4 linked regions of the Homo sapiens genome follow. The protein of the gene in region 2 interacts with the protein of the main gene of each other region in a pairwise test. Each region holds a gene or a part of one and is shown on either strand. Other genes may lie near its edges.

Region 1 (7,047 bases), about 73 Mb from region 2:
ACAGTGTTGGCAATAATAGTAATAGTAGGTGCTATATGTGAGTGTCTTAAATTTTTAAAAGTGAGCCAAATCTATTAGTTCTCTTTCAAATTCTGGTAGCAGAGAAAAAAAAACACAAGCCATTTATAGATTTACATTTAATTAGAAAATTCTCTAGGATAAACACAGGGCTTAACTTACCTTTGAAGCCCTGCAGTATCTCATTTAGTAGATACCTGATAAATATACCATGAGTTATATTGAATTATCATGTGGAGTGGCTCTCAACTGGAGAGCAAATTTGGTAATTTGCAGACATTTTTGGTTGTCACGCTGGGGGTGTGTGTGCGGGTGCTACTGGCATCTAGTGGGTAGAGGCCAGGGATGCTGGTAAACATCTTAAATTGCCCCTACAACAAAGGACAGCCCCCTAACAACAAACAACTATCCAGTCCAAAATGTCAACAGTGCCAAGTTTGTGAAACTCTAATTTGGTGTTTTCCTGAACAAAATTCACTCTTTCTTCAGCCTAAAGTCTCATAAATATGTCAGTAAAATATGGATGGGCCAATTTAGGCTCAACAGTGAATAAAAAGTAAACCAAATGAGAGTTTATTTCAAATGTAAAGTTCATAGAGCATATACCCGAGGCCTCCCAAATCCCCTGGATGTGCCTGTCAGAATTTACACAGAGCCCAATGTCTGGGGCCATAAAGAGATCAGAAGATAAGCAAGGACACAGAAGCCCACACTATTATGAGCTGACTGACCATTATTAAACCAGAAGTGGGACCTCCATTTCTACACAGACCGAGGCCTATATACTAGTCACAGCTGGTCACCTTACCCTCTCCAGGTCCTGGCGTAGATGCATAAACATTCTCATTCGAGTGTGAATGCTTTCCTCTTTTGGCTGCACCAGCCCATTTTCTTCATCCTCCTTTGGAGGAAATAATGGCTTATTGAAGTTACTTTTCCGCTTCAGTTTCCAGTAGTTATAGATAAAGTCCACAGCTAGCGTGGGCATACCCAGCTCTGCGGCCACATCTTCCACTCGTACCAAGGAATAGAACTCCTCCTCCAGCTCCCGAAGCTTCTGTGCCCGCAGGCTGGTTTTCTCACTTTTGGCCTGGCTCTGCTCTTTAGCCCTGTGGTGGGGGTACTCAGCTTCTCCAAGTTTCTGCCTGTTTTGGCTATGCTTGAGGCAATATGACTTGAACTTCACTTCGTCTCCCTCATCTAGGATGGTCTTCATCTCTAGGCCGTGCTCAAAGGCACAGGTGACGTGGAAGGCAGTGATGCAGCTTTTTATAGAGCACTGTAGGAAGAAAATAGGTGTCAAGGTAGCAGAGTTGGAGGAAAAGGGAGAGACCTATGTTTCTGGACCTAAATTGATAGCTTGTAGGAAGCAAAAGAAAGACCGGGAGAAAGTTAGTCCTAAACTGACCATAACAGATGCTTTACAAGTAACCCAAGAAACCTGTTCTTACAGAAAACAGCAAACACAGAGGCCAAAAATAATTCAAACACTCCTTTTGAGGTTTCAGCTCAAGCATTCAAGCATCAAGTTTTCTGAGATGCTTTCCTGGGCTCCTGTAAACAGTCATGTAGTCTCTTCTCTGTGTCTCCCACATCACCCTATGAATGCTTTTAAAATGGTACTTTTCACACTGTACCTATAACAATTGTCAAGTCCTTAGGGATAGATCTTAAAAACAGAAGCTGTGTCTTTCATTTTGCATCGTCATTAACTATTGAAGAAGCAGTTGCTCAGAAAATGTTTCTAAACAAACAAAAGAAAACACACAAAGTGAGTATTATTGCTAGAGCATCCACTGGTTCTAAAAAAGTCATAGGAATTCCAATATCTAAGTAACCTAACTTCTTGAATTTTTTTTTTAAACATAAAAATTTTAGGCCAGAGCACAGTGGCTTACGCCTGTGATCCCAGCACTTTGGGAGGCCAAGGCAGGTGGATCACTTGAGGCCAGGAGTTCGAGACCAGCTTGGGCAACATGGCGAAACCCTGTCTCTACTAAAAATACAAAAGCTTTCTGGGCATGGTGGTGCATGTCTGTAGTCCCAGCTACTTGGGAGGCTGAGGCATGAGAATTGCCTGAACCCGGGAGGTCCAAGCTGCAGTGAGCCGAGATCACACCAATGTACTCCAGCCTGGGCAACAGAGTGAGAACCTATCTCAAAAAGAATTTTTTAAAATATTTAAAAATAGAGAATCTATGTTGCTCAGGCTGGTCTTGAACTCCTGGGCTCAAGTGATCCACCAGCCTCAGCCTCCTAAAGCGTTGGGATTACAGGTGTGAGCCACCATGCCCCGTGAAATTGTTGTTATAGAACTGAGCTGTCCAACTTGGTGGCCAAGTAGCCATGAGTGGCTATTTCATTTTTTAAAAAAATTTTTTTAGACGGTGTCTCACTTTGTCACCCAGGCTGGAGTGCAGTGGTGCAATCTCGGCTCACTGCAACCTCTGCCTCCCAGGTTCAAGCAATTCTCCTGCCTCAGCCTCCCGAGTAGCTGGGATTACAGGCATGTGCCACCATGCCCGGCTAATTTTTGTATTTTTAGTAGAGATGGGGTTTCACTATGTTGGTCAGGCTGGTCTCAAACTCCTGACCTCAAGTGATTTGACTGCCTTAGCCTCCCAAAGTGCTGGGATTACAGGTGTGAGCCACTGCGCTTAGCCTTAAATTTAATTAAAATTATGTATAATTAAAAAATTTAGTTTCTCAGTCACAGTAGCCACATTTTAACTACACTAGACAGCACAGACATAAAACATTTCCATCACTGTGGAAAGTTTTTTTTTTTTTTTTTTTTTTTTTTGAGACAGAGTCTCACTCTGTTGCTGAGGCTGGAGGGCAGTGGCACAATCTCGGCTCATTGCAACCTCCACCTCCAGGGTTCAAGTGATTCTCCTGCCTCAGCCTCCCAAGTAGCTGGGACTACACGTGCCTGCCACCACACCTGGCTAATTTTTTTGTATTTTTGGTAGAGACAGGGTTTCACTATGTTGGCCAGCCTGGTCTCGAATGCTTGGCCTCAGGTGATCCGCCCGCCTCAGCATGCCAAAGTGCTGGGATTACAGGTGTGAGCCACTGTGCCTGGCCCACTGTGGAAAGTTCTATTGAACAATATGGTTACAGACAATCTGAAATTAAGTTTATAATATTCTGCCATTCAGTCATAGATTTAACACATTTATTAAGCATTACTATGCAGTATGTACTGACTATTCATAGGGGGGGGCAAAGGGGGAAGGACCTGGCCCATGACTACTATACTCCTGTGCTTCAGTTAGCCTTAATTACTATTTGTTATGGTTACAATGTTACAGCTTTCCTTCCAAAGACTGACTGATTGATTGAGACTGGGTCTCACTCTGTTGCCCAGGCTGGAGTGCAGTGGCGCGATTTTGGCTCGCTGCAACCTCTGCCTCCCAGGCTCAAGTGATCCTCCCACCTTAGCCTTGTGAGTAGCTGGGATTATAGGCGTGCGCCACCAAGTCCTGCTAATTTTTGTATTTTAGTAGAGACGGGGTTTCACCAATTAGCCAGGCTGGTCTCAAACTCCTGACCTCAAATGATCTGCCCACCTCGGCCTCCCAAAGTGCTGGGATTACAGGCATAAGCCACTGTGCCAGGCCTAATTTTTTTTTTTTGGGAGACAGAGTCTCACTCTGTTGCCCAGGCTGGAGTGCAGTGGCGTGATCTCGGCTCACTGTAACCTCTGCCTCCTGGGTTCAATCGATTCTCTTGCCTCAGCCTCCCGAGTAGCTGGGACTACAGGTGTGCACCACCATGCCTGGCTAATTTTTGTATTTATAGTAGAGACGGGGTTTCACCATGTTGGCCAGGCTGGTCTGGTCTTGAACTCCTGGCCTCAAGTTATCCGCCCACCTTGGCCTCCCAAAGTGCTGGGATTACAGGCATGAGCCACTGCACCCTGCTGCCCAAAGATTTAAAATGCATGAGTGCATCTATGTGTTTATGTAGAGGAAGTGGGGAAAGTAAGGGAAGATTCGTTTCTAAGGAAATATTGGGAATTCTTATGGTTAAAGCCAAGTGTTAATTCTTACATATGAATAAAGACAAAAAGAATGCAAAGGCCCAATAGATCATCTTAGATTGAGAAATTCAACACCTAAGAGGATACTGGCAACTGTCAAAGTTTTAAAGGGGCATATTCCATATTTCATTTAAACTAATTTCATATGATAAAGAATTCCAGGGATGAAATATAATTCTAAGATCATCTAATCCAGCCTTACATTTATTATTGCTTGAATTTCCTCGAGAGTACCTGATTTTCTGCCTCCATCCCCCACTCTATACACCTCCCCCTCCACTTTCCAATTAAGTGGTAATCTAGCCACTTACTGAATTCTTCCAGATAAGAAGCTCCTAAGATGGTCCACCCCGGCTTTTAACACCACTATCAGAAAAGTTTGTTATATTACACTGAAGCCTCTCGAAAATGAGGATGATGAAAGTTCAAGATGTACTTTTACCTGGGTACCTTTTGTTATCACTTGGCTAAGAAACTAGTCAGACGTTTGAAAAACAAAGTAAAAGGTATTCTTTAGTAAAAGATTTAAAGTGTTGGGCACAGTACTCTTTTGCTGTTTAATAACTGTTAAAGATATGGGAAGAAAAAGCAAATGATTTTCTATTCAAGGGAATGAGTAAGTGACATCAAACTACTATTATTGGGAAGCTAAAAACAGATCTTCTCAGGTCAAATTTATAGAATGTTTATAGAATGTAGAGACAAATATAAACATAAATTACTCAAAATAAAAGATAATGCATAGGTAAGAATTGGGTACTTATATGAAAAATATAATACCTTTTAGGAAACTGCCATAAAATCCAACTCTTTTCAAAAAAAGGTAATTCTGTGGTATTTATAGCTGGAGATCTATATATTTTGGTGGTGAAAAATGCTGGTCAATGGGTACGAAGTTATAATTGGGAGGAATAAGTTCTGGTGTTCCATTGCACAGGGTGACGACAGTTAACAGAAGGGTATTATATTTTACAAAATAGCTAGAAGAGAGGCTTTTGAATGTTCTCACCATAAACAAATGATAAACGCATGAGATGACAGATATGCTAAATATCCTGATTTGACTATACAACATATATAAAGACATCAAATTATACCCCACAAATATGTACAACTACAATGTGTTAATAAAAATTGCAATTTAAAAGATAAAACTTGGGCTGAGCATGGTGGCTCATGCCTATAATCCCAGCACCTTGGGAGGCTGAGGCAAGAGGATCGCTTGAGCTCAAAGGTTTGAGACCAGCCTGGGTAACATAGTGAGACCTCGTCTCTAATAAAAATAAAAAAACTAGCAGAGTGTGGTGGTGCACGCCTGTGGTACTCGGAAGGCTGAGGTGGGAGGATTACTTGAGCTCAGGAGGTCGAGGCTAAAAGGAGCCACGATTGTGCCACTGCACTCCAGCTAGACTGTAAAACAACAAAAAACGTACAATAATATTACCATTAAAAAAAAGAAGAAGAGTGCCGGGTGCAGTGACACACGCCTGTAATCCCAGCTACTTGGGAGGCTGAGGCAGGAGAATTGCTTGAACCCAGGAGGCAGAGGTTGCAGTGAGCCAAGATCGCGCCATTGCACTCCAGCCTGGACGACAGGGCGAGACTCCCTCTCAAAAAAAAAAAAAAAAAAAAAAAAGAAGAAGAAGAGCCAGGCGCAGTGGCTCACGCCTATAATCCCAGCACTTTGGGAGGCCAAGACGCAAGGACTGTTACAGTCCAGGAGTTCAAGACCAGCCTGGGAAACATGACGAAACCCTGTCTCTACAAAAAATACAAAAATTAGCTGGGTGTGGTGGTGCACACCTGTGGTCTCAGCTACTAGGGAGGCTGAGGTGGGAGCCTGGGAAGTTGAGGCTGCAGTGAGCCGTGATTGTGCCACTGCACTCCGGCCTGGGCGATAGGAGTGAGACCCTGAAAAAAAAAAAGGGTTGGGCGCGGTGGCTCACGCCTATAATCCCAGCATTTTGGGAGGCTGAGGCAGTTGGATCATGGGTCAGGAGTTCAAGACCAGCCTGGCCAAGATGGTGAAACCCCATCCCTACTAAAAATTACAGGCGGGCACCTGTAATCCCAGCTACTCAGGAGGCTGAGGCAGAGAATTGCTTGAACCTGGGAGGTGGAGGTTGCAGTGAGCCGAGATCGCGCCACTGCACTCCAGCCTGGGCGACAGAGCAAGACTCAGTCTCAGGGAAAAAAAAAAAAAAAAAAAAGAAGAAGAAAGGTGCCAGTCAGATACCAGATACCTATTTGTTTTCTTCTAAAACATATGTCTGGCGCATTCTATTAAACAAAATGCCTTTGCATACATCTCACTTATTTCCACTGTAACCACGGAAGGTGATAGAGAGGTTTTATTATGCCCATTTAAAAAATATTTTTATCTTTACAAATTTAAAATAAAAAATTGAGATAGCACTGTTCTCATTGTGGCAAGCAAATAGCACTTGTACAAAGCATCTTTTATACATGTGTCTTTAAACACTTTACTACGTGCATTACAGCATGGTCATTATATTCATTCACTGAAATGACAGAAATAGCTTTATTAAGATATATTTTATATACCATAAAGTTCACCAGTTTAATGTGTACATTTCAATGGTTTTCAATATATTTACAGTCATGCAACCATTGCCACTACCTAATCCCAGGATATTTTCATCACCACCAACCCCAAATCTTGTGTCCATTTGTAGTTACTCCCTGTTACCAACTCCAGCCCCAAGCAACTACTAATCTACTTTCTGTCTCTATTGATGTGCCTATTCTGGACATTTCATATAAGTGGAATTACAACAATATGTGGCTGTGTGAGTCTGGCTTCTTTCACTTAGCATGTTCTTCAGGTTCCTCTATGTTGTAGCATGTATTAGAACTTCATTCCTTTTTATGGGCAAAAAATAATTGTATGGATATACCCCATTTCATCGAGTTGATGGACATTTGGGTTGTTTTAACTTTTTGTCTGTTATGAAATAATGGTG
Region 2 (7,047 bases):
AATCTGAAACACCCCTTGTCCCCTTGTTACAATTTCTGGCAGAAATCACCACCCACTATAAAAGCTGAAAACACTGGATACTTGCTTTCCCAGACTCCCTTGCAGTAAGGAGGACCACTTGTGCTAGGCTCTGCCTAACAAAGGTATCCACCCCACACTTTGAAAGGAGGGCTGCAAATGGAGCCAGGAATGGAACAGGGAGGGAGACAGGTGTGGAGTAACAGAAGCAGGATCAAGCTCCCAGGCAACAAGGCCAGCAGAGCAAGCTTCAATTTCACACTTGGCAGTGGTAGTGCAGTTCAGCAGCATGATCTGGGTTGTTGAATCCTGAACTGGGATTTGGTATATATAGCCAGGAGCACCAGAAATTCTGAGTTACCCAATATACCCCTTTAATAAACATTTGATATGTAACATATGTACAGAAACAGGCACAGTATAACAGATGTAAGGGAAAAGTGCACGTAACATTAAGTCTACAGCTCAAATAATTTCACAAACCAAAACCACCTGTGTCAAGAAACAGAACATTAACAGGTGTTGACCCACTGCACAGTTGAAAATCTGCATATTATTTTTGACTCCCCCAAAACTTAACTACTAATATCCTACTGTTGACTGGAAGCATTACCAACAACATAAACAGTCGATTCACACATATTTTGTATGTTATATATGTGTTACATACTGTGTTTTGAAAATAAAGCTAGAGAAAAGAAAATGTTAAGAAAATCATAAGGAGGGCTGGGCATGGTGGCTCACACCTATAATCCCAGCACTTTGGGAGGCTGAGGCAGACGGATCACTTGAGGTCAGGAGTTCGAGACCAGCCTGGCCAACATGGTGAAACCCCATCTCCACTAAAAATTTGCTGGGCTTGGTGGTGGTCACCTATAATCCTAGCTACTTGGGAGGCTGAGGCAGGAGAATCGCTTGAACCTGTGAGGTAGAGGTTGCAGTGAGCTGAGATCGCGCCACTGCACTCCAGCCTGGGCAACAGATAGAGACTCCGTCTCAAAAAAAAAAAATCATAACGAGGAGGAGGAAGAGGAGGGGTTGGTCTTGCTGTCTTCAGGGTGGTAGAGGTGAAATAAACTCATGTATAAGTAGATCCACACACAGTTCAAACTTGTGTTGTTCAAGGGTCAACTACACTTCCAAAGCCCTCCTTATTTCCCTTTCCCTTCCCAAGGGTTACTATTCCCTTCCCAAGGGTAACCATTATCCTGATTTCTGACACTATAGATTAATTTTATCCATTTTTCAACTTGATATAAATAAAATCATTCACTATGCTCTCTTTTGTGTCTGCTTTCTTTCCTCAATTTTAGGTTTTGTGAGATTCACCCATGTTATGCATAATTGCAGTCTGTGCTCACTGCTGTATAACCTTCTATGATCAGGTGAATACAGGCCAGGTGGGGTGGTTCACGCCTGTAATCCCAGCACTTTGGGAGGCCAAGGAGGGTGGATCACTTGAGGTCAGGAGTTCGAGACCAGCCTGGCCACCATGGCCAAATCCCACCTCTACTGAAAATATAAAAATTAGCTGGGCATGGTGGCACATGCCTGTAATCTCAGCTACTCAGGAGGCTGATACAGGAGAATCGTTTGAACCCGGGAGGCAGAGGTTGCAGTGAGCCAAGATCATGCCAATGCACTCCACCAGCCTGGGCAACAAGAATGAAACTCTGTCTCAAAAAAAAACAAAAACAAACAAACAAAAAAACTACTTATCTATGCTACCTTTAATGGGCATTTAGTTTCCAGTGTGATTCTATTACAAACACTGCTGCAAACATTCTTGCACATATTAGTAAACACATGTATGCGTGTATGTTGGCTGTATATCTAGGAATGAAACTGTGGGGCCAAAGGGTATGCATTATATCCCAGTTCTTTTTAATAAATTCTTTTCTGCTTAAAATCAATCAGATTGTATTTCTCTTCCTTGCAATTAAGAACCTGGGCTGATATGCTATCTGTTTTTTCAGTAGCCATTTTCTCCACAAAGCTTTCCCTGACTATAAAAGCCCTCAAGGAGCAGTAATAATGCACATCCCATTTCAGTATATTTTACATTATCCTGAATTATTCAGTTATTTTATAGCAGTAAATCCTGTCCCTCCTACTGTCATAAGCTCCAACACAGCAGTTTTCAACTGTCACTTCATAACAAACTGGTGTGCCATGGTAAATTATAGTATACAGTAAGTAATTTGTTACTAATAAAAAAAGTACCAAGTCTGTGAATGAATGATATATATGGATAGATTCAAGATTCCCTTTAGATAACATTTCTGTCACTCGTTTGAACTCCAGTATGCTCCCTTGATCAGATGATCTGATGTATCCCACAACCCCTAGCAGTGTGTCTTTTATATGAATGTCATCTATCATGAGTGTCATGGTAGGGGACACCATGTGTATTACTTTTCCTCTATCTCCTATCATTCCAAGTAGTGCTGAATGCATATTAGATTTTCAATAAATACTGATTAATTATATCAAGGTGAAAACACACTGCAATAGGGACCCAAAACATAGCTTAATCTAATTACAGAGAGGCCAGTCCTTTAGCTCTTCCAAATCTTGAACATATCAGTCTTCTGGATATTCCCTCAAACCCCATGTTGGGTTTCACTTCAATAAATTTTGACATGGATGTCAAGCTAGGAACAGAGCTTTTCCCAAAAGGTAAGTTTACAGTTGAAATATTTACACTTTATTAAAAAGTATCTAGCAAGCAATTTCCATCCTTATTGCTGTGTTTGATTTTACAATACCCAATTTTTAAAAGGCTTTATGACATTAAAAAACCATAGATGAATATATTCTAGAGTGTGTAATTTTAGAGCTGAGAGTTTATTCTCTAAATAAAAGAAAAAGGTATGCCTCAAAATCAACCGTTCTCAAAGTCAAATATCCTCTCAATCCTGTTTTCCAAAAAGGTCATTTGTAAATTCTTTTAGAATGCAGACCTTGACCGGGCAGTGGCTCACACCAGTAATCCTAGCACTTTGGGAGGCCAAGGGGGGCAGATCACTTGAGCTCAAGAGTTCAAGACCAGCCTGGGCAACATGGCAAGACCCCATCTATACTAAAAATACAAAAGAATAGCTGGGTGTGATGGTGCATGCCTGTGGTCTCAACTACTCGGGAGGCTGACATGGGAGGATCGCTTGAGCCCATGAGGCAGAGGTTGCAGTGAGCCAAGATCACTCCACTGCACTCCAGCTGGGGGAATGGAACAAGACCCTGTCAAAAAAAAAAAAAAAAACCTCTCACAGAGAACACAGACCTTACTTCCCCAAGTGTATGACACTGCAAAAAGTGGCTAGGTTTTTGCAAGTCTATTTGACCCAAAGTATAGCTGAAAACATAAACACACAAAATTAGGGGTGGGGGAAGAACATAATGCTAGCAATAAAACAAAACCAATAAAAAGAAACCAAACAATGATCCAAGATACAATGGATTGATTATATAATGAAGTGATTAAGAGTCCCCATTCCTGGAGTGGAAGAGCTAGAACTCAAATCTGGCAGTCCAACTTCCTAGCTGTGAGACTTTGGGCAAGTTACCCTTGTTTAGAATTATAGTGCATATTTCTCCAATAGGTTCTTTGAAAGCATATAAACCCTTCAGAGCTAAAAGAAATTTGCCAAACAAGTTAGATACCAATTTACAAGTCTCCTTTTTAGTAAACACAGCACCTAAAGGGAACCTTCCCAAGTTTTAGCTTTATGTTTACTTTCATCATATTAAATTCTGGACTCTTGTCCTCAAACTCATGAATTTAGAATGATGTTGAGCAAAAGGTCTTTTTAAAATACAGGACACAGAGGCATACGGTACCTATTTATCTTTGTTTTCTATTCAGAGTGATGGTTTTCCTACAAGTTTAAGTCAGATTAACTGTTTCTCCTTTATAATTCCTAATAATAGGTACACTCATTGCATTCAGTTACTTTATACCCTTGCTTTTGGTAAGTTTCTTAAAGGAGAAAAGCAATATGATTTTAAAGTAAGAATGTTGAACACATGAAAAAGAGTATTAAAAGTTAATAAAAATATGTTTTTAAGCTATAAAATGACTTAATTTGTTAAGGCCAAAGAGTGGGTAAGGAAACAAGATTCAACACTACTCAACTAATGGAAAGTGCTTATTGTTGAGCAGTGTTTGGCACACCTCCAGAATTCTTTCACAATGCACAGCAGGATACCAACAAGTACTTATAAAGTATACTTTTGGGTCTGAGGGGATCTCTGATCACTTTAATAAGAAATTATGATCAGAATACTTTTGCACTACAGAAAGAAGAGCAGCCTTCCTGCATCAAGGGTCATTTAAATCAGCTCCAGTGCTACGAAATAATGCTTGGTTATAGACAAAATCTACCCAAAGATATAGGGGAAGAAAGCTGTTCTTTTGGGACATATTTGAGTATCTATAACCCTATCAGATGTGACAATCTGATATTTGGGACATATTTGAATATCTATAACCCTATCAGATATGATAATCAATGACTAACAAACTAATCTGGTATTTGGGACATATTTGAATATCTATAACCCTATCAGATGTGATAATCAATGACTAACAAACTAACAAGCCTGTCCTTTCTTATCTTCTAGCTTGACTTCTGTTTTTCGTTTTTTTTTTGTTTTTTTTTAGGGTTCAGAATTTTTCAGTCCTTTACAGTATCTCTATTATAACTAGAATAATTTGGCAGAACCTCGAAATCAAAGTTATCAGTTAAATGAAATGTGTTAAGCCTATAGAAAAATCTTAGTGCTTGTTTTCTCTCAGAGAAAACCTAACTTTGTGAAAACCTAACTCTCCTCACCAAGGAACTCCTAATTCTCCATATTACCCCCTTCGAGACTACGGAGGTATATCTGAAGGAGTACAGGTAAGAAACTAGCATTATTATATGGGATTATACATTAGTAAATTACTGTATAATTATCCGTACTGCTTAGCACTGATCTTGAAGTTTTCAATCCAAAAGAACTTCTTGCAAAACATCATTTAAAATTCATGGAAGAAAAAGGAGACTAAATGAGTCTAGTTTACCACCATATCCCTAGTGCCCACCAATGAATATCTTCAACAAAAATTCACTACGGGTTAACCATGTACCAGACCCTATGCTAGGTAGGCAATGGGAAGTAACAGTACATAAGATCGTCTCTGCTCTTAGAGACTGCTACCATAGGAGAGACTTGACTAAAACTAGGGGGAAACAAAAAAGCGTGGAAAATAGGCTAGTAACCTAAGATTTTGCAAATGATAAGATTTATTCCTATTTCCCCAGATGGTCACATGGCTGGCCTCCTGCCAACACCCAGGTCTCTGCCCAAATGTCACCCGATAACGGAAGGCCCTCTGACCACATAATATAAAGAAGGATCATCCACCATCACCCATTCCTATCATCTACTCATTCTCCTTTCTCATTACCTGTGTAATTTTCTTCATAGTGTTTTTGTTTTGTTTTGTTTTGAGACAGAGTTTTGCTCTTGTCCCCCAGGCTGGAGGACAGTGGCATGATCTCGGCTCACTGCAACTTCCACCTCCTGGATTCAAGCAATTCTCCTGCCTCAGCCTCCCGAGTAGCTGGGACTACAGGTGCTGGCCACCATGCCCTTGTATTTTTAGTAGAGATGGGGTTTCACCATGTTGGCTAGGCTGGTCTCGAACTCCTGACCTCAGGTGATTTGCCCACCTTGACCTCCCAAAGTGCTGGGATTACAGGCGTGAGCCACCATGCCCGGCCTCTTCATAGTGTTTATCACTATCTGACATTATATTATTTATCTGTTGAGCTTTCTTCTCCCATTAAAATGTAAGCTCCATGAGAGCAGGAACCTCATCTGTCTTATCCATTCCTCTGTCCCTTTCACCTAATATAGTGGCTGGGACACAATAGGCATTCAGTAAACGTGTGGAAGGGAGAGGCTCCTACCAGTAACATACACTAAGAATATTTCTGTGAGGTTTTTCCCACCCAGAAAAGCCTCAAACCTAAAAAAAAAAAATTCTGAACCCTAAAAAAACAAACAAACAAACCAAAAAACAGAAGTCAAGCTAGTTATAAGAATCAATAACCACAGAAGAATCCTGAAATCTATGATATCACAAAAGGACCATAATTAGGCAATTATATAAAGAAAGGATTTTCACCCACTATCCACTTTATAACACCTCTAAATCATATAGCTTCTCTTCGGAAAGTTGTCTGGTCAGTTACAATTCATCCAAATAAACACCAGCATAATTTAATCTCTATGAAAAAGACCAATATATAGCCTCTAAGAATCCTTTTCTGTACTTATTCTAAAGCTGCTGTTTTTAAAAGGTTATGGGTGAAGCTGGGATAGAGTTATAAAGTTACAAAGTCAAACTGGCACAGCTAGAGCACTAATGCTAATAAGACTATAAATTTAGGACAGGTCCTCCTTCATTGGCACTCCGTACAGTACCCAGGCACAGTTCTAGCTACATAGTAGGTACTTTACAAATATTTATTGATTTAGCTACATATTAGGTACTTTACAAATATTTATTAAGTTTTCAAAAACCTATTATTGGTATCCATTTTGATATAGAAAAGTAACTTGTGCAAAACCCACCAAGCAACTGCTAAATTCTTGACAGAAAAAGCTATATGGGAGGACTTTGGGCTCCACACTGAACCAAGAGCCATCAGAAAATGCAGCTGTATAGAAAAATGGTTTCTATTTCATCCTGGAACCTCTTAAAAATCAGATCTAGGTACATTATTAATATTTACTTTTCCAAATCCTGCTCTGAACTTGGAGGCGGAGGGAATCAATCTTGGAAATTTTCCAAGAGGAAGAATCTAGTTAGTCCTGATCAATAAATGGCAAACTAGCAGATGAGCTGATGGGTTCTTTTATGTGCTTCTTTTTGCATGTTTATTTTCTGCAGTGAGTAAGCATTGCTTTTGTAAAAACAAAACAAAAAAGCTTTCATTAAAAAACAAAAAAAAATTTAATGACATGAAAGCCAACAAG
Region 3 (7,117 bases), on a different chromosome or scaffold from region 2:
CCAAATGCCTCACATCTTTTAACACTGTCAACGTTGAGGATTAAGCTTCAACATATCAATTTGGGGGACACAGACATTGAGACCATAGCTCACCCCTACCTCACCATGCCATGGGAGATACCTACCTGGTTGCCTCCTTTTATTTATTTATTTTTTTTCTTTTTGTGACTGGGTCTCACTCTGTTGCCCAGGCTGGAGTACAGCGGCAAATCATGTCTCACTGCAGCCTCGATGTCCCAGGTTCAAGCAATCCTCCCCACTAAGCCTCCCAAGTAGCTGGGACCCACAGGCATGAGCCATCACACCTGGCTAATGTTGGGTTTTTTGTGTTTTGTTTTTGCTTAGACTGAGTCTCGCTCGTCGCCCATGCTGCAGTGCAGTGGCATGATCCCGGCTCACTGAAGCCTCCACCCCAGGTTCAAGCAATTCTCCTGCCTCAGCCTCCCAAGTAGCTGGGATTCCAGGTTCCCACCACTGTGCATGGCTAATTTTTGTATTTTTAGTAGAGACTGGGTATCACCATGTTGGCCAGGCTGGTCTCGAAATCCTGGCCTCATGTGATCCACCCACCTCAACCTCCCAAAGTGCTAGGATTACAGGCGTGAGCCACTGCATCTGACCTGGCCACCACATTTTAAATGGAACCTCTTGGCTGGGCGCGGTGGCTCACATCTGTAATCCCAGCACTTTGGGAGGCTGAGGCAGGCGGATCACGAGGTCAGGAGATCGAGACCATCCTGGCTAACATGGTGAAACCCCGTCTCTACTAAAAATGCAAAAAAAAATTAGCCAGGTGTGGTGGCGGGTGCCTGTAGTCCCAGCTACTTGGGAGGCTGAGGCAAGAGAATGGCGTGAACCTGGGAGGTGGAGTTTGCAGTGAGCTGAGATCGTGCCACTGCACTCCAGCCTGGCCGACAGAGCAAGACTCTTGTCTCAAAAAAATATAGAATTAAACTAAATTAAAAAATAAATGGAACCGCCCAGCCCATCCCCTACCCACCTGTCCTGCATTTTTTTTCTCCTTATCACTGTCTCACCACTAGAGGCCAGCTCCACCAGGGCAAGGGTTTTTCCCTGCCTGCCACTGTATGCCGAGTGTCCAGAACAAAGCCTAGCACAAGGTGGGTATCCCAGAAATATTTGTGGGATGAGGCCGTGCGTGGTGGCTCACACCTGTAATCCCAGTGCTTTGGGAGGCTCAGGTGGGAGGATTGTTTGAGGCCATGAGTTGGAGACCAGCCTGGGCAACATAGTGAGACCCCATCTCTACAAAAAAAAATTTTTTTTTTTTTTTGAAACAGTCTCCCCCCTTTCGCCCTGGCTGGAGTGCAGTGACAACGATCTCAGCCCACCGCAACCTCCACCTCCCCGGTTGAAGTGATTTTCATGCCTCAGCCTCCCAAGTAGCTAGGACCATAGGCGCATGCCACCATGCCTGGCTAATTTTTATATTTTTAATAGAGACAGGATTTTGCCTTGATGGCCAAGCTGGTCTCAAACTACTGGCCTCAAGGGATCCACCCGCCTCAGCCTCCCAAAGTGCTGGGATTACAGACATGAACTACCAGGCCCAGTCTCTACAAAAATAAATGTTTTAATTAGCTGGGCGTGGTGGTGCACATCTGTAGTACTGGATACTTGGGAGGCTGACATGAGAGAATCGCTTGAGCCCAGGAGTTCGAGGCTGCAGTGAGCTATGATTGTGCCACTGCACTCCAGTCTGGGCGACAGAATGAAACTGTCTCAAAAAGAGTAAATGAGACCCCGAGAGTTGGAGCAGTGCCCCCTAGTACACAGAAGAGACAGGGCTTTGACACCCCCTATCTCTGGTGTTCTTGGCCCTCAACACAGGAAAAGAAAAAAGCCATCCAGGAGGAGGAGGAGAGAGACCAGGCCTTGCAGGCCAAGGCGAGCCTGACCATCCCGCTGGTGCCCGAGACGGAAGATGACCGCAAGCTGGCGGCTCTGCTGAAGTTCCACACCCTGGACTGTGCGTAGGAGGCCAGGGGGAAAAGGGGACAGGGAGGCTCAGAGTTGCCTGGAGATGGGGGGTCCTCAGCCATGAGTGGACTCTGGTCTACCAGAGGGCAGTTCTGGACCCCCTCCCCTGCCGCCCCTGAAATGTCCTCTCCTCTCCTCTAGCCTACGAGGACAAGCAGAAACTCAAGCGGACCGAGATCATCAGCCGCTCCTGGTTCCCCTCTGCCCCCGGATCCGCCTCCAGCAGCAAGGTCAGCGGCGTCCTGAAGAAGCTGGCACAGAGCCGCAGAACCGCGCTTGCCACCTCCCCCATCACCGTCGGGGACCTGGGCATCGTGCGGCGGAGGTCTCGGGACGTCCCGGAGAGCCCCCAGCATGCGGCCGACACCCCCAAGTCTGGGGAACCGCGGGTACCAGAGGAGGCTGCCCAGGACCGGCCCATGTCCCCCGGAGACTGTCCTCCGGAAACAACTGAGACCCCCAAGTGCAGCAGCCCGAGGGGGCAGGAAGGGAGCCGTCAGGACAAGCCCCTGTCGCCAGCAGGCTCCTCCCAGGAGGCAGCTGACACCCCCGACACGCGGCACCCCTGCAGTCTCGGCTCCTCCCTCGTGGCGGACTACTCCGACTCGGAGAGTGAGTGAGCGATCCCCATCCTGGAGACTGGACCCGCTCTAGAGGCCCGGACACACCCAGGAGGCCCCTCACAGACTGCAGACCCCCGGCTCGCCCACCAGCCCTGGGAGAGCTCAGATGCCGCATCCTCCCCAGACCGCGCCTTCCTGCAACCGTGGAGTTATTTATTTGGTCCTGGTGAGGGTGTTTGTGCCTTGTGAGACTCCGTACATTAAAGACCTGTCTCTTCTTCCCTGTCTTGGGTTGTTAGATGGACCCTGGGGCTGCCCCCCCACCCCCCCACCTTGACCAAGCTTGGTAGGCCTCTCATCAGCAAATGCTGGTATAGGGTCATAGCTGTGACCACAGACATGGTCCCCTTCCAGAGTAACAAGAGTCTCAAGGTGGTGGTCCCGGTTGGCCAGGAATCAGGACAGACTTCCTGGAGGAGGAGGCATGGGCCAAGTGTGAAGGGTGAAAAGGGGGCCAGGAACCACACACACAAGGCCAGGGACAAGGCACACGGGGTACCCAGGATGTGTGCCAGATGCAGCAGGGGCTGGAGCACACAGGTGTGAGCTTTTTATTATACCCAGCCCAGGGGTGGCCCATGGAAAAGCCCCCCGTGCATGTTACTTTTGGGGTTTTTTTGTTTTGTTTTTGAGACCGAGTCTTGCTCTGTCACCCAGGCTGGAGTGCAGTGGCGCGATCTCGGCTCACTGCAACCTCTGCCTCCTGGGTTCAAGTGATTCTTCTGCCTCAGCCTCCCGAGCAGCTGGGACTACGGGTGTGCGCCACCACGCCCAGCTAATTTTTTGTATTTTTAGTAGAGACTGGGTTTCACCATGTTGGCCAGGCTGGTCTCGAACTCCTGACCTCAAGTGATCTGCCCGACTCGGCCTCCCAAAATGCTGGGATTCCAGGCGTGAGCCACAGCGCCTGTCCTGCATGTTACTTTTGAATGAAACCGAGCAGAAAATGGCCCAGAAACAGCCTTGCATCCATCAAGGGGCACACGACCCCCCACTACCTCCCCCTCAACCTTGGAAGATCATTTAACAAATTCTTTGGTTTGAACACTTGATGTTACCTTGCCACTGGGGATACATCCCTAACTCTAGACAGCAGGTTGTTAAACACGGGGCCTGGTATCCACTAGGCGTCCCATAAATGCTGCCACTTTTGTGGTTCCGAGGAGGCGGCTCACTCCGTTCGGGCTTGGCAGGAGTCGTGGAGTGGGTTCGGCCACGTGGAATCCGCGTCCTGGGAACCCGTGGAATCCGCGTCCTGGGAACCCGTGGAATCCGCCTCCTGGGAACCCGTGGAATCCGCCTCCTGGGAACCCGTGGAATCCGCCTCCTGGGAACCCGTGGAATCCGCCTCCTGGGAACCCGTGGAATCCGCCTCCTGGGAACCCGTGGAATCGGGTTGGATGCGCATGTGCGTGTCTCTTTTTCCGGGGGAGGCTCCGCCCACGGCCCCGCCCCGCTCCCAAGTGCGCGCGGACCCCTAGCTCCCTCTGAGTTGCGCTGGGCTTGGCTGCTGCACCATGACCCTGGAGGCGATCCGCTACTCGCGGGGCTCCCTGCAGATCCTAGACCAGCTGCTGCTGCCCAAGCAGAGCCGCTACGAGGCGGTGGGCTCGGTGCACCAGGCCTGGGAGGCCATCCGCGCCATGAAGGTGCAGCGGGGCGGCGGGGCGGCGGGGCGGCGGGGCGGCGGGGCGGCGGGGCGGCGGGGCGGCGGGGCGGCGGGGCGGCGGGGCGGCCGGGTTGGAGGTGGGAGTGCGCCCGCGCCTGCAGCTTCCGACGCCCAAATCCCTGCCCCGCAGGTGCGGGGCGCCCCGGCCATAGCCCTGGTGGGCTGTCTCAGCCTCGCCGTGGAGCTGCAGGCGGGCGCCGGGGGACCGGGACTCGCCGCGCTCGTGGCCTTCGTGCGCGACAAGCTGAGCTTCCTCGTCACCGCCCGGCCCACCGCTGTCAACATGGCCCGCGCCGCCCGCGACCTGGCTGATGTTGCAGCCCGGGAGGCCGAACGGGAGGGCGCTACGGAAGAGGCGGTCCGGGAGAGGTACGGGGATCTGGTACCAGGCACGGCGCTGAGCAGGAATTATATTGACTCTTTTTAAGTACAGTGACCCACTATACAGATGGGGAAACTGAGGCACGGCGACCTTAAGTCCCTTGTCCAGGGCCCCACAGATGGGGAGACTGAGGCACGGCGACCTTAAGTCCCTTGTCCAGGGCCCCACAGATGGGGCCCAGAGTCTAGCCTGGGCAGCCTGGCCCTGAAACCTAACTCCTTAATCGTGCCTCCCCTGAATACACGCAGCCCCTTATCCGCCCTTGGAGGCCCTTTTTAGTATCTCCGTGTTCTCTTGGTTTCTGCTTTTGAGGAACTTTTTTTCCTGTCCTGGTCCCCTTCCTGCCATCTTTTTCCCCCCACTTCCTTTCTGCTCCAGCCCTCCCTGCAATGTCACTTTACCCCACCAAGCTCGAGCCTGCCTTACAGCCTTTGCACGTGCCATTGGTGCGGGCCAGGTATCCATAGCGCCCTCCTCCACCATTCTATATGATCCAGCTCACCCGCTGCTCTCTGTTGCCTGATTCTGCCGGCTTTTCCTTCATTTTATTATCTCTTCATCAGCTGGCTCACTCACCCCAGTGTCAACTCCACAGGAGCAGAGATTTTTGTCTTGTTTACTGCTGGGTCATACCGGAACTGCTTGGTAAACATGTCTTTGCATGAATGAACGGAGTGACACTTCGGTGGCCCTGGCCGAAGGGTCCAGGCCCCACAGCAATGAGAGGCTTTGAGCAGGAGGGCTCCAGGACAGCAGCGTTAGGCAGAGAGGAGGCGTTGGCCTGGGCCCCGGGTCCTGGTGGCTGGTGCTGAAAACTCCTTGTCACCCCAGAGTGATCTGCTGCACCGAGGACATGCTGGAGAAAGACCTCAGAGACAACCGAAGCATTGGGGACCTAGGAGCCCGCCACCTCCTGGAGCGGGTGGCCCCCAGCGGTGGCAAGGTGACTGTGCTGACCCACTGTAACACTGGTGCTCTGGCCACCGCTGGCTATGGTACAGCCCTAGGTGAGAGGGCCTCCTCAGGGGGTAGGGGAGGGCCTTCTAGGAACTTTTTTAGATACAAGAGAAAGAATCCCAAACCCAAACCACTTTATCCACAAAAAAAATGGGAAGGTACTAGTTCTAGTACGGAAACACTTATACAGTTGGCTTCAGGTATGGCAAGATCAAGGGGCTCAACCAGTAGCATCAGGACCTATCTATCTCTGTGCTTCAGCTCTGCCCTCCTTCATCTTCAGGTTCCATGGGCTGGCAGGCGGCTGTTAGGGTCCAAATCATGAGGAAAAGAGCCTCCTATACTAGAAAAGTCTCCTTGTATCTCAGGGGGTCCACTAGGGCACCTGCCCATCCCAGAGCAGTCATTCGATGGGCCCCGCCTGAGCCATATGCCTAGAGCCAGGGCAGGACGTGGACTCCAGGAGGAACTGGGGAGAAGGGAGTGAGCAGAGAAAGATTAGGTAGCTGTGACCAGGAGACAGGGGGAGTGGGCTGTAGGGGGCCAAGGCAGCAGATTCCACTTGACCCTAAATTCACCAGGAAATTTCCCTACCTGCCTGAGTCCCACCTTCATCCCTGGGAACTGAGGCCTTAATGGAAAGACCTCTGCCTTTGATTCATTCACTCACCCAGCATTTAGTAAGCACCTGCTGTGGCTCAGACACCGCCATTTGCTGGGGACGCAGCAGTGAACAAAACAGACAAAATCTCTGCTCTCAGGGGTCCCAGGGAAGCAGAAGGAACAGTCAACAGGCAAAATAAGTACAGTCATCCTTCAATATCTGTGGGGGACTGGTTCCAGGACCTCCCACAGATACCAAAATCCATGGATGCTCAAGTCTCTGATATAAAAATGCCATCATATTTGCATGACCTATGCACATCCACATATATATATATATATATATATATATATATTTTTTTTTTTTTTTTTTTTTTTTTTTTTGAGACAGAGTCTTGCTCTGTCGCCCAGGCTGGTGCAGTGGCATGATCTCAGCTTACTACAACCTCTGCTTCCCGGGTTCAAGAGATTCTCATGCCTCAGCCTCCTGAGTGTCTGGGATTATAGGCGTGAGCCACTACGCCCAGCTAATTTTTATATTTTTAGTAGGGACGGGGTTTCACGACATTGGCCAGGCTGGTCTCGAACTTCTGACCTTAGGCGGTCCGCCAGCCTCGGCCTCCCAAAGTGCTGGGATTACAGACGTAAGCCACAGTGCCCAGCCCACCCCTATATTTTAAATCGTGTCTAGATTGCATATCATAGCTAGTCCCATGTAAATACTATGTAAATTGTTGTTACTGGCTAGGTGTAGTGGCGGTGCAGGCCTGTAATCAGGAGGCTGGGGTGGGAGGATTGCTTGAACTCAGAAGTTCTAGACCAGCCTTTGCAACACAGCAAGACCCTGTCTCTATTTTTAAGCCTGTAATGCCAGCACTTCGG
Region 4 (3,142 bases), on a different chromosome or scaffold from region 2:
TAACTTTATTTTTAAAAATATCCTTAGCAGTAATACATCTTCCTCTTTGTGGGTGTATTTTATTTCTTGAAACAGCAACAAATCACTTGGAGCCAAGTCTAGTGGACAATTAAAGTAGGTAAAATAAATGTAATGGAGACCTTAGTGTAATTATAAAGCGATGCAACATTTTGACTCTGTAAACTGATTTCCAAAATGTTGAAAAAAATAGTAAATGTGAGTAACTTGAAAACATTCATCTGGATAGAAATTCCGGCTTTTTCATCAAAACTTCACTTCTTTGTGATCAGCTTGTATTCTATCAACCACTCAAGTTCAGGGGCCTCACATTTTCTCCTAGCCTACGTAAAAATCGTAACATTAAATGCCTAAATTATACAGAACTGTTAAAGCTCAATAGTTACTAAGTTTTGGTTCATTCAATAGGGTACCTCATTTCAGAAATAGTACTTAAATCTGACTCAAAATTACCTTATGACACCATTCAAAAGCAAATCAGGTTTTTTGGTTTAGTGCTAAAATATAACATTTAATGTCACATTGTTGGGCGACTCCCATTTACTTTTTCCATATATACAGTGAAGACTTACAATAGCTCACAATGCAGTTAAGAATTGCATTTTAATAATCTCAAACTACCATCTAATGGAGGAAAGAATAAGTTTGTCAGAAAACCAGTACAGCCATTTTGCTATTAAAATTTTCCTTTTTAATAATTTATTTAAATAAGGTATTTGAAGCAGTTTAGAAAAAACAAGATTTGTATTTTATTTCCTTGTAAAAATCTTTACACATGCAGACAAACCAGTGTTAAGAAAGTATTCACCATCATTTAAACAAATAACCACTTAAATAGAACAGTGTCTGCAATTTTATCTGTATAAAAATAAGATACATTTTTACAGAATTCACGCTCCAGTTCTTATAGCAATAAACAATACACAACTATAATAAAGTACAATTGAACCTGACCATGGTTTTTAATTAGATACTGCTAGGGCATTTTAATGTGCAAAAAAATTAACATAGTTCTTTTCAAAAGAAACTGTCCTCAGTGTTCTAGAGACCTAGAGGGTTTCAAGAAATCAAATCCTAATCAGTTTGCGTTTAATGTTTTTGATTGAGTCCATACATCACACTGTAGATAGGCAAAACCAAGAACTGATGCAGGCTCAAAGGAAGAGAAAGTCAGCGCCTGTGCCTGCCATGTCCTGAGCGACTGCCACCATGGTGCTTGCTTTTATGGGACCTCTCAAAGGAGCGAGATCGTTCACGCCTGTCCCTATGATGTCCCCTTTCATGCCTGTGTTTCTTGGCTGCATCTGAGTGATCCCGAGACTTGCTCTGAGATCGAGAACGAGATTTTTTCCTTTTATGACCATGTCTGTTTGAACTTTTTAAATCATCTCTGGTATGCTTGGCCTTAAGGTGAGGAGAACCATGATTATGATGTCTTCGAGGGCTTTCACTGTGACTGCGGGACCTGCTTCTTGATCTCGAGCTGTATGTTCCAGATCGACTCCGCCTATTATTATAGCTTAGATAATAAAAATTTGAAGTTTAGGTTCAGTTTCTATGGGGAACAGATTATTCCGGTGGTTGCTCATAACAGGTTCAAAACAAAACTACCAGCTACATAAATGACAAACCAGAACTTTTCAAAATCTCCCCACCCCTCACTGCTGTATGCCCAAGCCTATATATAACATATTAAATCTTAAGCAAATGTTCTTATGTCTTTATTCCAAGGGGAGTAATTAGCAATTTTTATAGTGTCCTAGAGCTATGCTTTTTATTAAGTATCTCCCACATGTTCAAAAGACATTGAAGAGCCACGAAGAGCTAACAATCTAATTACAGGCCTAACTAAAGAAGATTCATTGACTGGTTAATTTGATTATTGGTTATTAATAAGGGGTTAATGAAACACATTTTCTAACTGAAATTAAAAAAAAAAAAAGAAGTTTTCACATTATGAACAATACTATGGCCCTCAAGCACTTTGTGGGTAGCTCCTACACTTCTCCAAAAAACATGGGAGAAAATATAACAGAATGCCATTAAGATACTGTATGTCCAGAACATCTCCAAACTCATTTCTCATAATTTGCCTCATACTAAAAGCCTAATTCTAACCTAACTTTGAAAATAATCTATGTTCAATTTTTAAAGAAAAAGCAATAACCTTTAAAAACTCCAAATAAGACTGCTTCCCTAAGAAAACATTTACTTACTGTCTTCTTGGAGTATGTGATCTAGAACGTGATCGTGTTCTTGACCTCGATCGACTTGCACTTCTGCTATTTCTACTTCTCTTGCTGTCTTTTCTTACACTTCAAAAAATCATGACATATTAGTTACAAACTTAGTGTGTTAAAAAGTAAACACATAAAAGATTCCTCAAGCCAGTTTTCCAGCCCAAGTATACTCACCCATTGTAAGGGCTTTTGGAAGCCTGTTGTCTATCCTCAGGTTCTTTTTTGACTGTCTTCACATTAATGGAGATTGGTGATTTCTCTTCAGCTTTTACTTCTCTTGGTGATGCTTTTAAAAGATATAATAACAACATGTTAACTACTGGATTTAACAGAGGGCCAAAAGTTGTTTCTAAATGTAACTCAAAGTACCATGCTTCCGCTTCCATGTTGGTTGACTGCCATGAGAGAACATAGCAGCAGTTTCCTAACATCATTTTTCTCTATGCAACTTTCAAATGTAAAAGCTCTCTAATAAAGACACACTTTCAGTGCCCCCAAGTCATTTTAATTCTAAATACATCTTACATGGCTTGGAGGCTGGAGAAAATCCACCCAGGGTTGAAAGGGCTGGAGTTCCATCCGGATTCAATCCCTTTGCTTTTAATTTGGCTTCTTGTAAGGCTACTTTTCTTTTTTCTACTTCTTTTTCCAGTAATTCATAGTTTGGCTGTTGGAGGAAAAAAAAGTTAGTATTTCTTCCTTAGAGTAGCTTGGACTCTTAGCATGTTGGCACAAACGAGTAAATAGAGAATACCTTTTTTCTGGTATAAAGCCTAAGTGTTTCTATGCAGATTTCCTGGATTTCCTCTTCTGTAGTACCAAAAAGAAGAAACCAATGGGGACGAGTTGGCAACGGAATCTAAACCATAAGAACAGAATGTTTT

What was found.
Region 1: the proteins of LAMP2 (region 2) and JADE3 interact in binary tests that used the Homo sapiens proteins (3 or more experiments, as listed by UniProt).
Region 3: the proteins of LAMP2 (region 2) and MRI1 interact in binary tests that used the Homo sapiens proteins (3 or more experiments, as listed by UniProt).
Region 4: the proteins of LAMP2 (region 2) and CCNL1 interact in binary tests that used the Homo sapiens proteins (3 or more experiments, as listed by UniProt).

What each region holds. Positions count from the first base shown.
Region 1 is NC_000023.11:47,048,408-47,055,454, reverse strand, and holds part of JADE3 (protein Jade-3), read right to left. Parts: intron 1,298-7,047; coding exon 827-1,297; intron 1-826. UniProt on the Homo sapiens protein: Scaffold subunit of some HBO1 complexes, which have a histone H4 acetyltransferase activity.
Region 2 is NC_000023.11:120,459,257-120,466,303, forward strand, and holds part of LAMP2 (lysosome-associated membrane glycoprotein 2 isoform A precursor), read right to left. Parts: intron 1-7,047. UniProt on the Homo sapiens protein: Lysosomal membrane glycoprotein which plays an important role in lysosome biogenesis, lysosomal pH regulation and autophagy.
Region 3 is NC_000019.10:13,760,448-13,767,564, forward strand, and holds the start of MRI1 (methylthioribose-1-phosphate isomerase), read left to right. Parts: upstream 1-4,074; 5' UTR 4,075-4,141; coding exon 4,142-4,273; intron 4,274-4,423; coding exon 4,424-4,662; intron 4,663-5,506; coding exon 5,507-5,682; intron 5,683-7,117. Other genes in the region: probable splicing factor YJU2B, read left to right, coding at 1,852-1,990, 2,143-2,621.
Region 4 is NC_000003.12:157,147,053-157,150,194, forward strand, and holds the end of CCNL1 (cyclin-L1), read right to left. Parts: intron 3,118-3,142; coding exon 3,013-3,117; intron 2,926-3,012; coding exon 2,784-2,925; intron 2,545-2,783; coding exon 2,433-2,544; intron 2,334-2,432; coding exon 2,235-2,333; intron 1,538-2,234; coding exon 1,189-1,537; 3' UTR 501-1,188; downstream 1-500. UniProt on the Homo sapiens protein: Involved in pre-mRNA splicing. Functions in association with cyclin-dependent kinases (CDKs). Inhibited by the CDK-specific inhibitor CDKN1A/p21. May play a role in the regulation of RNA polymerase II (pol II).